2 separate regions of the Homo sapiens genome follow, and region 1 is linked to region 2. A link means that fine-mapping ties the variant in region 2 to the plasma level of a protein whose gene starts in the linked region. Region 2 holds a variant in brackets. A gene starts in the other region. All regions are shown on their reverse strands. Region 1 holds the start of GOLM2 (golgi membrane protein 2). Region 2 overlaps LINC01221 (long intergenic non-protein coding RNA 1221).

Evidence for each region. A credible set is the group of variants that fine-mapping cannot tell apart. PIP is the posterior inclusion probability: the model's chance that the variant is causal. The UK Biobank Pharma Proteomics Project read protein levels with antibody pairs (Olink). The fine-mapping took linkage between variants from a reference panel, not from the people measured, so its PIPs are less certain.
Region 1: it holds the start of GOLM2, and the variant in region 2 is the best candidate, but not a certain one, in a credible set for the plasma level of the GOLM2 protein (UK Biobank, PIP 0.52).

Annotation. Positions count from the first base shown.
Region 1 is chr15:44,287,258-44,290,169 of GRCh38, reverse strand. It overlaps GOLM2 (golgi membrane protein 2), which reads right to left and starts at 1,451. Exons shown (of 10, transcript NM_138423.4): 1 at 814-1,451. The coding sequence starts at 1,140. RefSeq lists a silencer at 1,175-1,534 and enhancers at 1,345-1,639, 2,035-2,104, 1,486-2,392.
Region 2 is chr1:199,024,165-199,027,076 of GRCh38, reverse strand. All of the region lies in intron 1 of LINC01221 (long intergenic non-protein coding RNA 1221), which reads right to left. Among named protein-coding and RNA genes, the nearest start is that of LINC01222, 6.7 kb to the right of the region's middle. The variant TA/A (reference allele first, on the strand shown) is at 1,509.

The sequences.
Region 1 (2,912 bases), not on the chromosome of region 2:
TTAAACTTTTTATATTTAAAACTTTGTATAGTTTTCCATCTGCATAAAACACCAACCCTAATAGCAACTTAGCTATACAAAATTTCATTCTATTTTCTTTCAATGAAGACACTGACATGACATTCCACTGCTTAAAATTTATTTTCAGATTCTAATCTTTTGGCTGATTTCATTAACAATTCAAATTGAGTAGATAATGATGGATCAACTATGTCCAAGACACAAGTGTGTCTCACATATAGCTCGAGGGCCCATCTATCATAACATTTTGATCACAAAAAGGCAGTCATAGCTGATTATTTAGTTATTCAATACATCACCCTATAGAGATTTTAAAAGTCACACAGCTTAAAAAATATATGATGACTACCATAAGTAGAGGAGTCAGAGGCGGCTTCGTTCTTTAAATAACGAAATTAATATTGATCAGTGTGCACGGAATAAAAATGAGACAATAACCACACCAAACCTGGCAGTCGCCAGATTTGTGTGTCTTTGAAGGTAAGGGGGCCACACAGGCCAGATGATTACTACTGCCAACTCACCAGCTGAGCTTAGAGAATAGGCAGCATCTGCACACAGTCCACTCTTGAGAACCAGAATTTACAGTCATTTTTTTCTGGCAGGGACCAGAGAACGTGGCACTGATAAACTGGGAAAAGTCTGACAGAAACAGGGTTGTTGGGGGTGAAAGGAGCCTTCAGGACTGAAATACTGGAAGGCATAAGACAACAGCTAGCGGATTAACATCCCGCCCCAGACCCCGGGGAGAAAAGAAACCATGGGGTTTGAAGAGAAAAGGGTCGTCCTTACCTTGTCATCCTCGCATCTCTTCCCGAGGCCCTCTCTGGCCTGCAGCCGGCTGCTGAGGCGGCCGTAGTCGGCCTCCTTCTGGTCGATCTGTTTCTTGTGCGTGTCCACCAACAGCAAGAGGTCCGAATTGCGCTTTTCCAGCCGCCCGCGGGCCACTTCGGTGCGCTGGACCTGGCCCTGCAGCTCGGCCACCTCCTCCTGAAGCAGGACGTGGCGGGAGGAGATGCTCCAGTAGTTGAAGGCGAGGACGACGATCACCACCAGCAGCACCACCAGCACGAGAGAGGGCAGGCGGCCAGCCCGCCGGTTGGCCCCGAAACCCACCATGGGGCCAAATCGGGCTGTACCCTAGGGGCCTCGCCGCAGACACCTGCAGGCAGAAGCCCAGGCCTCGGCTGGAGTTGCCCGGCGGACACGGCCCCAGGGCCGGCCGAGGGAGGAGGCGGGCTTACCGGTCGGCTGCGAGCCGGAGAAGGGGGCGGGGCCGCAAGCCGCAGGTCCCTCCCCGCCCCCCTCCTCAAATCAGGCCAAAACGCGTTCCGGAGGCTTTGAACCCGACCCTGCACCTGCCCAAGGGAACCGGGAGAACCCAGCTGCCAGCGTCCCCCAAACCCAACACCTCACGGTTGGGAGGCGGGGAAAAAAACCGGAAAGGGGCGGATGTACCCTGGCCCCACCCACTAGCTGGGGCCGGGTCGTCTAGGGGACCATTTCCGAGTTTCCGTCGACACCCCTCTTGTCGCGAGAACGTTGCTTCCTCTCGTCTCTCTCTCTCTCTCTCTCTCTCTCTCTCTCTCTCTCTCTCTCTCTCTCTCTCTCTCGCTCTCTCGCTCTCTCGCTCTCTCGCTCTCTCGCTCTCTCTCGCTCGCTCTCTTTCTCTCTCTCTCTCTCTCTCTCTCTCTCTCTCTCTCTCTCTCTCTCGCTCTCTCTCTCTCTCGCTCGCTCGCTCTCTTTCTCTCTCCCCGCCCAGAGTTTTCTCTGTCGCGTAGGGTGTTGTGTTAATTTTGGCGGTCTCAGATGTCTCAGGTACCTGGGTCGGAGTCCTTTCTGTTGTTATCTACTGGATTCCCTTGATTCAAGGCCTAGGGAGTTCCTGCCCTACACTGGCCCTCGCGAAAATATTTGTCTTTGAGGACGTCTGGGGCTGCGACCGCGGAATAGAAAAAAATAGTAGGTGAGCTGCTGCCAAAAAGGAGCGACTAGAAAGGTTTTGTACTTGCTTCTGTAGAAGGGGAATTTCTCTTTTGTGCTAATGATGTGGAAAGAAAAAACAAAAAGACTGTAAAATAGCGATGCCCTAAACATAATGGAGAAAAGCGGGAGAAACCAAGCTTTAGGACTGAAAGGGGTGGTGCCAGTCTCGTTTCCTAGGTTACTGCTTTCACGAACCGAAAGAATTTCAGAATGTGGCGAGCTCCAATTTTTAAACGCACTGCTGCTTTTGCCTCAGCTGGGCTTCCAAACAGAAAGTCCAGAAGCTGCCCTCGATGAATCGTAACTAATGCACTGTTACTGCCAGCGAACACATTCCGGGTTAGAAATAATAGCTCTAACAAATTGTTTTGCGCGCCTAGTCTCATATTATCTTCTCAACAACGCAATTTTACAGATGAAGAATCCAAGACACATAGATGTTTGGGAACTTTCTCTTATCTGGTTTTAAATAGGCTTGAATCCAGATCATTGAACTCTAAACACCAGTGCTGTCTGCATATAGCAGATTGTTTATATGTTAAGTGTGAATTTCAGTAGTGCAAAAAAAAAAACAAAACCTGCCTCTTTTTTTTTTTTGCATAATTATTTTGTCCGTGCATAGAGAAATAAAAAGGTACTGGCTCTAACCTGTTTAAGGAGAGGATGGGGTTGCCTTATTTTTCAGACCTCAGGTTGAAGAACTTCCATGAGTATAAAACCTCAAGAAGGAAAAACCTTGGTATTTTTTATTCGAATCAGAGTGATATGATTTTGAGGCAGGAAGACTTGTCATCTTAATTATTCTGTGCTTCCTATCCTCAAAAATTATTTCCCTAAGTCCCGTAGTAGCGTAGAATTATTGCATCTTCAAAGAACAATGATTACTCTCTCAGATGCAGTACAGA
Region 2 (2,912 bases):
CTCTGCATGAAAAAATTACTTGAAAAAAGACTCACACCAATCAAAAGGGAATTTAAGAAATAAGAGGAGGAAGGAAGGTGGTGATCTATTTACCTATCCACCTATCCATTCATTCGTTCACCTATTAATTTACTCATTATCTTTTTTCAATCTATTTTTTCTATCTTAATAAATAAAATCTAGTAGGTTATTTAATGCTAAATTTAAAAATCTTGAGGCCGGCCGGGTGCAGTGGCTCACGCCTATAATCCCAACACTTTGGGAGGCCGAGGCAGGTGGATCATGAGGTCAAGAGATCGAGACCATCTTGGCCAACATGGTGAAACCCCGTCTCTACTAAAAATACAAAAATTAGCCAGGTGTGGTGGTGCATGCCTATAGTCCCAGCTACTCGGGAGGCTGAGGCAGGAGAATCACCTGAACCTGGGAGGTGGAGGTTGCAGTGAGCCGAGATCACCGCCACTACACTCCAGCCTGGTGACAGAGTGAGACTCTGTTTCAAAAAACAAAACAAAAAAAATTTTGAGGCAGCCAGATGTAGTGACTCATGTCTGTAATGCCAACACTGTGGGAAGCCAAGGTGGAAGAATTACCTGAGCCTAGCAGTTCAAGGATGCAGTGAGCTGTGATCGTGCCACTGCATTCCAGCCTGGGTGATAGAACAAGACTCTGTCTTAAAAAAAAAAAAAATCTTAAAATTGAAATGGCATCTTGCAAATAGTGGAGAGACCTAATGTAATTTTTTCTAGGTTTTCATCTTCCTTTGTTATTGTTTTGAGGAATGAGAAAGATATCAAAGAAAACTGAGTGTTGGCTGAGTAAGACAGTCTATCTCAACTGAGAGCATAGTTTATCTTCTTAAAATAATAGTAGAGTCATAGATATCTAATAAGAAGAGCAAGAAAAGGGGAAAGCATTAACAGAATGGAAAACTATAACTGAAACAAAAACAAAAGATAACATAAATAGTAATTTGTTCAAATAAAACAATAAGAGAAAAAAATAATAAGAAATTTAAGCCAGTAGTAAACATGAGATATACTGATCTCTACTCTGAGAATGGAATGAATTTTGCCATTAAAGGTAGACTCTCACATTGAGTAAACATAACACCAATGTACTTAATGTTTACACAGTCATGCTTAAAACAATTGGTAAGGAGAATTAGAGAGTCAAGGAGTGAACAAAAAGATAAGAAAAAATGCAAACCAAGAAAGCAGAAGACTCGATGTTAATACCAAAAAAGGTGGCATTTAAGGCTAAAAGAAATATAAGAAACATGAATGGCCATGATATAATGGTAAAAGCTACTATAAATTGCAAAGTTTCAACAGTAATGAAATAGTGAGCATTAAATTCTGTACCAGCATGAACAAAGTCATAGCTGAAATTATAAAGAAATATTACAGAGCAGGTCTCAAGCATGGGCAAACTCCCTGTCTTGATGGAGTGGAAGCTCCAACTGACTTGATGAAATGTTTTTGTTTTTTTTTTTAATTTTTTTTTTT[TA/A]TTATACTCTAAGTTTTAGGGTACATGTGCACATTGTGCAGGTTAGTTACATATGTATACATGTGCCATGCTGGTGCGCTGCACCCACTAACTTGTCATCTAGCATTAGGTATATCTCCCAATGCTATCCCTCCCCCCTCCCCCGACCCCACCACAGTCCCCAGAGTGTGATATTCCCCTTCCTGTGTCCAAGTGATCTCATTGTTCAATTCCCACCTATGAGTGAGAATATGCGGTGTTTGGTTTTTTGTTCTTGCGATAGTTTACTGAGAATGATGGTTTCCAATTTCATCCATGTCCCTACAAAGGACATGAACTCATCATTTTTTATGGCTGCATAGTATTCCATGGTGTATATGTGCCACATTTTCTTAATCCAGTCTATCATTGTTGGACATTTGGGTTGGTTCCAAGTCTTTGCTATTGTGAATAGTGCCGCAATAAACATACGTGTGCATGTGTCTTTATAGCAGCATGATTTATAGTCCTTTGGGTATATACCCAGTAATGGGATGGCTGGGTCAAATGGTATTTCTAGTTCTAGATCCCTGAGGAATCGCCACGCTGACTTCCACAATGGTTGAACTAGTTTACAGTCCCACCAACAGTGTAAAAGTGTTCCTATTTCTCCACATCCTCTCCAGCACCTGTTGTTTCCTGACTTTTTAATGATTGCCATTCTAACTGGTGTGAGATGATATCTCATAGTGGTTTTGATTTGCATTTCTCTGATGGCCAGTGATGATGAGCATTTCTTCATGTGTTTTTTGGCTGCATAAATGTCTTCTTTTGAGAAGTGTCTGTTCATGTCCTTCGCCCACTTTTTGATGGGGTTGTTTGTTTTTTTCTTGTAAATTTGTTTGAGTTCATTGTAGATTCTGGATATTAGCCCTTTGTCAGATGAGTAGGTTGCGAAAATTTTCTCCCATGTTGTAGGTTGCCTGTTCACTCTGATGGTAGTTTCTTTTGCTGTGCAGAAGCTCTTTAGTTTAATTAGATCCCATTTGTCAATTTTGGCTTTTGTTGCCATTGCTTTTGGTGTTTTGGACATGAAGTCCTTGCCCACGCCTATGTCCTGAATGGTAATGCCTAGGTTTTCTTCTAGGGTTTTTATGGTTTTAGGTCTAACATTTAACTCTCAATAAATTAGGTATTGATGGGACGTATTTCAAAATAATAAGAGCTATCTATGACAAACCCACAGCCAATATCATACTGAATGGGCAAAAACTGGAAGCATTCCCTTTGAAAACTGGCACAAGACAGGGATGCCCTCTCTCACCGCTCCTATTCAACATAGTGTTGGAAGTTCTGGCCAGGGCAATCAGGCAGGAGAAGGAAATAAAGGGTATTCAATTAGGAAAAGAGGAAGTCAAATTGTCCCTGTTTGCAGATGACATGAT